Linked DNA regions of Homo sapiens. The protein of the gene in region 3 interacts with the protein of the main gene of each other region in a pairwise test. Each region holds a gene or a part of one and is shown on either strand. Other genes may lie near its edges.

Evidence for each region. The genes of interacting proteins can lie anywhere in the genome.
Region 1: the proteins of ZNF622 (region 3) and BEND7 interact in binary tests that used the Homo sapiens proteins (3 or more experiments, as listed by UniProt).
Region 2: the proteins of ZNF622 (region 3) and MAP3K5 interact in binary tests that used the Homo sapiens proteins (3 or more experiments, as listed by UniProt).

The regions. Positions count from the first base shown.
Region 1 is NC_000010.11:13,522,515-13,526,014, forward strand, and holds part of BEND7 (BEN domain-containing protein 7), read right to left. Parts: intron 1-3,500.
Region 2 is NC_000006.12:136,694,978-136,698,477, reverse strand, and holds part of MAP3K5 (mitogen-activated protein kinase kinase kinase 5), read left to right. Parts: intron 1-1,090; coding exon 1,091-1,259; intron 1,260-2,420; coding exon 2,421-2,527; intron 2,528-3,500. UniProt on the Homo sapiens protein: Serine/threonine kinase which acts as an essential component of the MAP kinase signal transduction pathway. Plays an important role in the cascades of cellular responses evoked by changes in the environment.
Region 3 is NC_000005.10:16,459,301-16,462,800, reverse strand, and holds part of ZNF622 (cytoplasmic 60S subunit biogenesis factor ZNF622), read left to right. Parts: intron 1-3,500. UniProt on the Homo sapiens protein: Pre-60S-associated cytoplasmic factor involved in the cytoplasmic maturation of the 60S subunit.

The DNA of each region.
Region 1 (3,500 bases), on a different chromosome or scaffold from region 3:
GACAGATGTGAAAGCACTTTCTAAACCATAAGTGCAACACTCATGGTCGAGCTATAATGATGCTTATTGGCGGCTCCCTCACCCTTCCCACCTGGAATCTTCTCCAGGGAGGAGAAATACAGGAGCGAATCTTTCCTGTAGTTCAACATCTCTGCTTTGCAGAGCCCTCCCCTCTACCCCTTCCAACTCTGCATTTGCTGTTGCCCTGATCATTCACATTTGTCATTTAATTACCGTTCACAGACAGGCGGTTAAGTGGAGTGTTCAAAGCTCAGACAGACCTGCACTGGAACCCTACCTGTGGCACTTCCTACTTGAGAGACCTTGGGCAGGTCACCTCGACATCTCTAGGCTCATCTACAAAATGGGGATGACGGTAACTCATACAGACATGCTGCAAAGAGCAAATCAGGTCTTTCATGTAAAGTGCTCAGTGTGCTGCCTTGCACACAGTTAAGTGCTCAAACAACTGTAGCTCTTACGATTGCTGAATACTGCTCCGTTTCCTGAATTTGTCCTGTCTCCTCCCCAGCTGGATCTGAATCCCTGAGAACAAGGTCCCTGTCCTATCCATTTCTGTGACTATCTCTGACCCCACTCCCATTCCAGAAAAGTGCTGAGTTCAGAGTATCTTCTATAAAGACACTGGCTGAACTGATTTAAGAGAACTGTTTCCTTTCAAACAGTGCTTAAATCTTCACTGTAGTCCCATCACAGCCAGCTTGAGAAAGTCAATGTCCACAGGGTAAAGTAACGTCTTCTGACCCTATTATCCAATTAAAAATATGTGAGTAATTCCTAAAGCACGAGGCCAAGCCATTTACACTACTGAGCTACCCTACCATGTGAGATACACTACGTTCGTTAACAGCCTAAACATGTTCCAGAGAGGTAGACTTGATGTGGGAACCTCTGCCACATTCTAGAAGACTCTTTTTCACCTAGAACATAAACTTTGATCTTATAGATGCAGATACTATTAAAGGGAACACATATGTTTGAATGTAGAAAATCCTATAGACCATCCCTGGGACAGTGTGTCAGTACTTTGTTATAGGGGAAAGAGTTCTAGTATTTTGGTACCAAACCCCCTTGGATGTCATAAGCTTCCCATATAATTCTACATCTTTATGGACAGGCTTTAGCAATTTATAAAATAAACATAATTGAAATCTTTATGTTTTGAAAAGTGTAACTATAAAACTATAAACTATAACACTGTCAACAAAAAATTCCTACTCTCAGATGCCATCAGTAACTATTCTCAATTGCTCCAGAAATCATGTTGCTGTGACAATTTCTGTTATTTTTTCTTAACTGACCTAGAGATCACAAAATAAAAATGTTATTTGGGAACCAACTACATGATGACCCAAGAATGAGCAAAAGATTGAAAATAACCCACAGCACACTCCCAGGCTGTTCAATCTTTTGTCTCTTGATGTTGAAGGCCTTCTGGAGCAACCACTTTGAAAGCGTATCTATCTCAAGCCTGGTCCTTCATTGGAATTCTTGCATCTTCCTCAACTTGGACTAGGAAGAAGAAAAGCAACAACGTCTATCATCTCTGGGAGTTTCCAGCTTACTGAATCCTGGGCACTAGCATCCTGTTGCTCTTCAGCTTCCCCTCTCTTATCCTTACAATTCACTTCCTTCGTAGTGACCTTACCACTTTTCTAGTAGTACACAACAGAAAGTGCGGGAAAGCCTGCCTTGCTGGAGAACTAAATCAAGGACATGATGTTCCCTTTGTATGGTGAACGTAAATTTTCTACTAAAGGGTAAATTCGTTATTTCGAATGGCTATATAGAGTGGTACTTTGATAATACAAAATTCCAGCTGACCAACCAGGCACGGTGGCTCACGCCTGTAATCCCAGCACTTTGGGAGGCTGAGGCAGGTGGATCACCTGAGGTCAGGAGTTTGAGACCAGCCTGGCCAACATGGTAAAACTCTGTCTCTACTAAAAATACAAAAAATTAGCCAAGCGTGGTGGCAGGTGCTTGTAATCCCAGCTACTCAGGAGGCTGAGGCAGGAGAATCGCCTGAACCTGGGAGGCAGGGGTTGCAGTGAGCCGAGATCATGCCATTGCACTCCAGCCTGGATAAAAAGAGTGAACCTCCGTCTCAAAAAAAAAAAAAAAAAAAAAAGAATTCCAACTGACCAAGTTTAGGGGACTGGAAAGACTAGAATCCAAGAATATTCTCTTTCTGGGCCACAGCATTTCACTTGATTATTAACCTTTTGGCTCCTAGCTCTCTTAACAGTAAACAGGTACTGGGAGCAGTGCTGGCCCCAGTGATATTCTTTCCCTCAGCAGAAAGATCTATGTGCTATCAATGATCGCTCATGTAAGAAATGCTGACATTTCCCTCCTATTTTTCCTCTTAAAGTATATATTAATATTTGACTTCTTCCCAATGCATCCCGACCCACCCTTTCTATCCCTCAAAGCAAAACCAGAGAGATCCTGGCGAGAGCTTCGTTTGAAGGCTGACCCACACCGGGTCTGAGCAGCAGTCCTGCTACCTGAAGTCCCCCTTGATGGGGTAATTGTGGCTTTGCTTGTAATCGTTCTCGCTCTGACCTCTCTCATGTTCTGCTTCCTTGCTGTGCAGTGCTGTGCCCTCACCCTGCTACCTGGGATTGCAGAGGTCCAAGATGGACAAGGTTGAGGCCCAACGCCACCATCTACTCTCCACCCTGACCTTATGGGTACTTCACTCTTAGAGGCAAAATCTTACGTGGTTTCATTTTTGGCTGATTGTGTGCAAATAAAAAACTGCACATCCAAAGTCTTTCCTGTACAGTATTTGCACCAACACTGCACATGGAAAAGGTGGCAATGTTTGTGGCTACCTACCCACCCATCATGCAGCTACACTTGCTGGAAAGTCTCAGAAATGCTGTTTTAGCTCTGCTCATCCCTGACGTGAGCTGGGAACAAGGATGGTAAGAGGAAAGCATGCTGTTCCCCCTGTCCCAAAATGCTGGTGTGAAAGGAGCACAAAGTCAGGAAAATGAGGAGCTGCTTGATGATAACTAGCACTATCAAGAGCTGGTTAGGCAGACAGTCACACTTTTATTTTCCTTATGCTTTTTGACTGTAGATTTAATTTAATTTTGTCATGGCAGGATTAGCAACTGGGCCACAGAGGTGAAGGGACATTATAAGACAGCACATTAATCCTCTATCCCACCCAAGGCAGAAGCAAAACCAAACAAATAGCAGCTTCCTGGAAATTGAATTTCTGTTATCCAGATGTCAAAGATGTAATACCCCAATTACACAAACTATTGCCAGTGAAGCATGCCAACGAATATGCAATGTAAATGGGGTGAGCGCAGAGCCACAAAACTGCACAGTCAGCATCTGGCTCTGTGAGTGAGTGATAATTAGCACTGTGTGTAGACACTAATAAACATTTATGTCTGAAATTACAACTTTTAGCAATGTTAATAAGGGATATATTGGCAATCTGTAAAATAAAAGGTCTT
Region 2 (3,500 bases), on a different chromosome or scaffold from region 3:
TTAATAATGCCATTTGGTGATGACAATAAAGTGTTATTCTACATCTTTATTTGTGCATGATATCAGGTGCTCCTGAGATATCAGTATACAGCTAAGAACTAGGGGGAAAATGTTTATTATCCTCCAAGTAGATAAAATAGATGCCACATAATACATTTTATTCACAGAACAGCAACTTGAAATCAGCAAAAAATTAAAAAGTCTACTAACCGCTTTATAGTGATGGTAGAACTAAAAATATATACAAAGCAAGTACAGAAACAATACCAGGATAAATGTCCAGGGACTTCTAGTGTAAGGGCAAGAACAATTCAACTTTAATTAACTCTTAACTCTAATTGTTCTTTCAGTGAAGAACAATTATTTATGTTAATAAATGATAGGCTGAGTCAGGAAGTTAAGGTTATATTATGTTCAAATCATAGGTACATCACGGCCAGTGCCGTGGCTCATGCCTGTAATCCCAGCATTTTGGGAGGCCGAGGTGGGCAGATCACTTGAGATCAGGAGTTCGAGACCAGCCTGGCCAACATGCCGAAACCCTGTCTCTACCAAAAATACAAAAATTAGCCAGGTGTGGTGGTGCACACCTGTAATCCCAGCTACTCACAAGGCTGAGGCAAGAGAATTGCTTGAACCCAGGAGATGGAGGTTGCAGTGAGCCAAGATCATGCCAGTATACTCTAGTCTGGGCAACAGAGTGAGACTCTGTCTCAAAAACAAAAACAACAAACAAACAAAAAATCATAGGTACATCTAATTTATTTAGAACAATTTGTACTGGAAACAGTAAAATGGAAAACAAAGTTTTGGCATTTTAAGTGGTTTTTTGCAGGAAAATTTATTAATATGGAGTACCTTTACCTTTAATTCTTTCTGAAGGCAGAGTAATAAAAGAAATACATTGGCTTCTAAATTTCTTAATAATGCCAGATATGTAAGATATTTATTTAGGCATCTGAATGAACTGAAAACTACAAATGCTTTATAGCTAATGCTGCAATATCATTCATGTCTTTATTAAAATTATTGCTTTTCATTGAAATTGTTTCTAATGTCAAACTCTTTGAAATGTGTGTGTTTTTACCAGCCAGTACTTCCGGGAATCTATACTCAATGACATCAGGAAAGCTCGTAATTTATACACTGGTAAAGAATTGGCAGCTGAGTTGGCAAGAATTCGGCAGCGAGTAGATAATATCGAAGTCTTGACAGCAGATATTGTCATAAATCTGTTACTTTCCTACAGAGATATCCAGGTGAGAAGATGTTTAAAGTGAAATCTTTGTTGTGTAGCATGTTGGAGGGATAAGGGAGTATTAACCTCAAATTTCAGTTTGCTGGTAAGCAGTTCATGTTACTACACGTAATTTTTTATTGACTCTCTTAAGCTTTCCATCCTATAATTTTATGATGAATGAAAAAGACTCATGTGAGTTAACCATCAGTGATTGTGAAAGACTTGTATGGTAAAGGCCTGACTTTTTCCTCCAAAAGAACAAAAAGAAAAATCTGCTGGCACAGCGAACCTGTGGACACAGTCTATTCTACTGTTAGCCTCAGGCACACCTGTCAGTGAAAGCTTTGTTTTGGCAAATAGCAGACATTTTTAGAGCTTTCTGGACATACCTTTTATCCCTTGAAATTGTATTGCTTGAAATTGATAGTGCTGAATCTAACTCGCCTGAAGGAAAAAATATGTAATTGATTACCTACAGAAATAACTTTAAAAATATGTAATGTAAAACACACTAACAGGTTATATCATTTTTATTGACATGTCTTAAAATTTTAAAAATAGGGTAAGTGGAATAAAATCCTCTCCAAGTTAGGGATTTGCTCTTAGGTTTTAATAGTAAAATTTAAATGACATCTGGTTTCTCCTTTCCATTCCTAGCCTTTCAGGTCTGTGTAAAGGCTTCATGTGCTCAAGACAGACTCACATCCATGGAGGGCTGTGGCACATAGGATCCTGTGGCTAGAGTGCTTACTCATGTGACATGAAACTGTGTTGCTACTTGTAACAGAAGTTCAACCCATTGCCTCATGTCCTTGACATTTTTATTTCCCTGAAATTGTTAGAACACTGCATACCGGGAATCTGGCTCTATGGGGAAATAAATCACCCATATTTAGACAGTAGAGCACTATCATGCTTGGTGTTTTTGTTTCTTTTGCTTTTTTAGTTTTTGTTCAACATGGTAACTGTATGTTTCTAATGTTTTTATATATACGATCTAAACCTTTTAGAAGAAAAACAACAAAAACTGTTTATTCTAGGTTCTTCAAAGTGTTCTGTGGATTCTAGTGTCTTTTTAATGTGTTTCTTGAATTCAGATATCTGGTTGTCAAAAGACACGTTATTGTGAGAATTTTCTCCTAATGGTTTAATTCTGTGCTATTCTCATCTAATTTGAAAGGACTATGATTCTATTGTGAAGCTGGTAGAGACTTTAGAAAAACTGCCAACCTTTGATTTGGCCTCCCATCACCATGTGAAGTTTCATTATGCATTTGCACTGAATAGGTAAGAAGAAAAAGTTCCCTTCCAGAATGCGTTAACATATTATTGTGTAACCTGCAATTCTTTACAGAGAATGTGTTCACTGCAGCATTGCAAGAAGTCCCTATTAAAATGTAATATTAGCATATCTGCTTCAGCCCCATGAAATATAGGAAGCATGCATTCTCATTTTTTTCTGATTTATTTTTCAGTAAAAAAAAAGTCGCACACTGTTGGTATATTTAAATTCTTACAGGTTTTCTGCTCTGTCAAAGTTTGTATTTGCTATTCATATTTTTTAGAATTGTAAAAGTTACATGAATATGATGTTATCTTTAAGCAAATACACTCAACACCAGATGGTCATTCACACAAAAGTTTTCACTAGAGTAAGGATGGTTATGTCTAGGTGAACATAGTGTTAGATAGTTATTACCAAGGATAAAAAGGAATTTCTTGGACAGAAGATTTGAAGTAGTAATTGAGAATAGAAATGATACCTTTTTTATAATAGCTTTATTGAAACATATTTCACAGGCTGGGCGTGGTGGCTCACTCCTGCAATCCTAGCACTTTGAGAGGCCAAGGTGGTCGGATTGCCTGAGCTCAGGAGTTCGAGAGCAGCCTGGGCAACACGGTGAAACCCCGTCTCTACTAAAATACAAAAAAATTAGCCAGGTGTGGCAGTGTGCACCTGTAGTTCCGGCTACTCGGGAGGCTGAGGCAGGAGAATCGCTTGAACCTGGGAGGCAGAAGTTGCAGTGAGCCAAGATCATGCCACTGCCCTCCAGCCTGGGCAACAGAGCAAGACTCTGTCTCCAAACAAACAAACTAAATATATTTCATCAAAACAATAAATTTTAAAACATTTTCATCACTCCACAAGGAAACCCTGTACCCATTAGCAGCCCCCCTTCCATTTCCCTCCCAAATCCCCCAACTCTAGGCAACCACGAATCTACTTTCAGTCTTTACAGATTTGCCTATTCTGGACATT
Region 3 (3,500 bases):
TCACATATTGGGTTCCTGGAGAGTCCTTGCATCACCAGCTGTCTCCTGAAGGAGTTGAGACAGTTGCTAAACCAGGCCCAAACCAGGCATCTGATGGTGAGATTACCCCATTGGTGGTTCACCCCTAACTAGAATCTTTTTTTTTCTCTGAGAAAGATTTTTGCTGTCACCCAGGCTGGAGGACAGTGGCACAATCATGGCCTACTGCAGCCTCAGCTTCCCTGAGCTCAGATGATCCTCCCACCACAGCCTCCCCAGCAGCTAGTGTGCACCAATATGCCCTGCTAATTTTTGTACTTTTTGTAGAGATGGGGTTTCGCCATGTTACCCAGGCTGGTCTTGAACTCCTAGACCCAAGTGATCCACCCACCTCAGTCTCCCAAAGTGCTGGGATTACAGGTGTGAGATACCATGCCCGGCCCTAACTAGAATCTTGAATTTTTTTGTATGTCATTTAGCAAATGTATGTTAAGTACTTGTGAACAACTAGTTGTCAAAATTCCTGTGAGCTAGCACAGGAGATAAGCAGATGTGTATAATTACCATGCCAGGCATGCATAGACCAAGTGATACCATGTTCAGAAAAGTCTCAGTCTTTTAAGTCTTCCTTTTGCATTTTCTCCCTGATTTCTCATTTTGCAGCTGGAGACTTGCAGTTGGTGGACATGACTGGGTGGAGGTAGAGGGGAGGATTAGAGGCTGTGGCAGTAGAGAAGACAATGAATGTCTGCTGGTGGTGGGAAGCATCCTCTTTCAGTATTTATCCCTCTCAAGTTTCCTTTTAGACAGCAGTGTTTATGACCTTTTGACTGATGTTGTAATCAGAGTGGTCAAAGCAAATACCATGGATAGTTAAGCAGCTGCCATCAGCAGTAGGCTTGGAATGCCCAGCACTCAGTCTCTCATCCTGTGGTTATATTCAGAATCCTACCCAGTCTCATAGATTTCAATATCTTCTGTAGGCCCGTGACCCCCACATTTATATCTCTAGTATAGCCTTCCCCTCAGCTGTAAACTGAAGATATCCAGCTGCCTCCTTGATATTTCTACTTGTGTCCAAAAGGAATCATTAACTTAACCTGTCCAAAATCAACTCCTGCTATGCATCCTAGTCTGCTCTCTGTAAGTAAATGGCATCTCTGTCCTTCTAGTTACTTAAGCCAAATGCCATGCAGTCTTCCTTTATTCTTCTATTTTCTTTCATGCTTACATTAGAATCGATCACCAAATTCTGCTTTATCTGCTTTTGCACTATCTATCTTCAGAGGCTGACTGCTTCTCACTACTTCTATGGCTACTACCCAGGTCCAGGGCACCATCATCTTTCGCCTGACTTCCTACAGTAGCCTCCTGCTGCCTGGTCTCCATATTTACATCCTTACTACCCACTATGTTCTATTCTCAAAACTGTAACTAGGGGGATCCTTTTAAAACATTAAGTGAGGTCAAACTCTGCTCAGATTCTTTCAAAGACTACCTATCTTACTCAAAGTAAAAGCCAAAGTATAATGGCCTGCAAGGCCCTGCACATAGTGTGGAGCATCTGTGGTTCTGTGGTTTTGTATTAGTTGCTCTCTGGATTCCTAACTATTCCTCTAATGCATCAAGTGTGTTTCTCAAGACCTTTGCATTTGCTGCTGTATTTGTTTATAGTATTCGCTTAGATATTCACTTGACTTGTCCCTCACTTCTTGCAGGCCTTGACATAAATTTCACCTTCTCAGTGTGGCCTTTTTTGACCACCTTCCATAAAATAACACCTACCCAATCCTTTTTATCCTGTTTTATTTTTCCTTATATCCCCTACTGCCATTGTGTGTATTGTATATTATTTATTGTCTCCTCCTTCTAGAATCTAAGCTTCAAGCCCTAGCCTTTTGTTGTTGTTACTCTTGTTCTTTACTGGGTGTTGCTTAAACCGTTAGTTTGAATTAAAATATGTAACTGATGGAAACGGTTCTCCCTTAGTCCAGATGATGTATTTTTCATTCCATTTACAGTTTTATTCTGTTGGTGCCTAGAAATGAGAAATTATATGAACTTTTCTTCCTAAAAATGAATATTAAATGATTTGTTTGTCTTAAAAAAATAAAAGTCAGCCAAGTGTGGTGGCATGAGCCTGTAGTACCAGCTGCTTAGGAGGCTGAGGTAAGAGGATCACCAGAGGCCAGGAGTTTCAGGCCAGCCTAGGTGACACAGTGAGACCCTGTCTCTAGGGGAAAAAAAGGAAAAAAAAAAAAGTTGATAATGCTTAATAAAGAAAACTTGGAAAATAGAAAGCCTTTACATACAAAGCTAGTGTTTATGGAGTGCTTACCTGCCAGACACTGTTCTAATAAGCATTTTATGTGGATTCACTCAGCTAAAAAATGACAAATTACCTAAATTTCACTCCCCTTCACAAGGTAACTTGTTTACTTATTTTGGACCTGAAACTTTTTATTGAAGAATAAACTTACAGAAAAGTGCATATATGTATACAGCTGGCCCTCTGTAGTCATAGATTCTCCATCTGTGCATCCAAACTAAAGTATTCGAAAAAAATTTTGTCCATACTGAACATGCACAGACTTATTTTTCTTGTCATTATTCCCTAAACGTTTAGTACTGTGTAACAACTATTTACATAGCATTTACAATGTATTAGGTATTAATAAGTAATATAGAGATGATTTAAAGTATGCAATGATTTAGGTTATATGCAAATGTTATACCATTTTATATCAGGGACTGGAACATCTGCAAATTTTAGTATCCTAGGGAGGTCCTGGAAGCAATCCCCCATGGATACCAAGGGATGACCGTACTTGTGATATCATGATTCAGTGTAGTGAAATTTTAAATATAACTAGCACCTAGATCAAGAAACAGCATGTTAATAATACCCTGACATTTCCCTTGTGTGTCCTTCCAGAAACTACCCCTCCTTTCTCCAAGAGTAACTACTATTCTGACTTATAGCTGCATAGATTGGTTTTGCCTGTTTTTATACTTTATATAAATGGAATCACAAAGAATGTACTCTTGGGTGTGGCTTCTTTTGCTCAACTTTATGTTTGGGAGACCCATTCATACTATTTTATATAGCTGTGGAGAGTTCTTACTGTTACAGAGTGTTCTGTTCAGTGCTCCACAACATCTAGTCTACTGTTGATACACATTTGAGTGGTTTCTAATTTGGGGCTATTACAAACAATGCTGCCACATCATTCTAATGTGTCTTTGGCAAATGTTTATAGGTTATCTGTTGTGTGTATATGTAGGAGTTGGGCCAGAGGATATACATATGTTCCATTTTAGAAAATACTGTCAAATTGGTTTCCAAAGTGGTTTTCTATACTCCCACTTGTAGTGAGGGAGAGTTTTTCATCTTAGCAACTTTGGTGGGTGTGTAGTGGCTTTAATTTGCATCTCCCTGATGATGATTACTGCAATCAAGAGGCTTTTTGCATATTCATTGGCCATTTGGATATCTTTTTGTGAGGTATCTGATCAAGCAT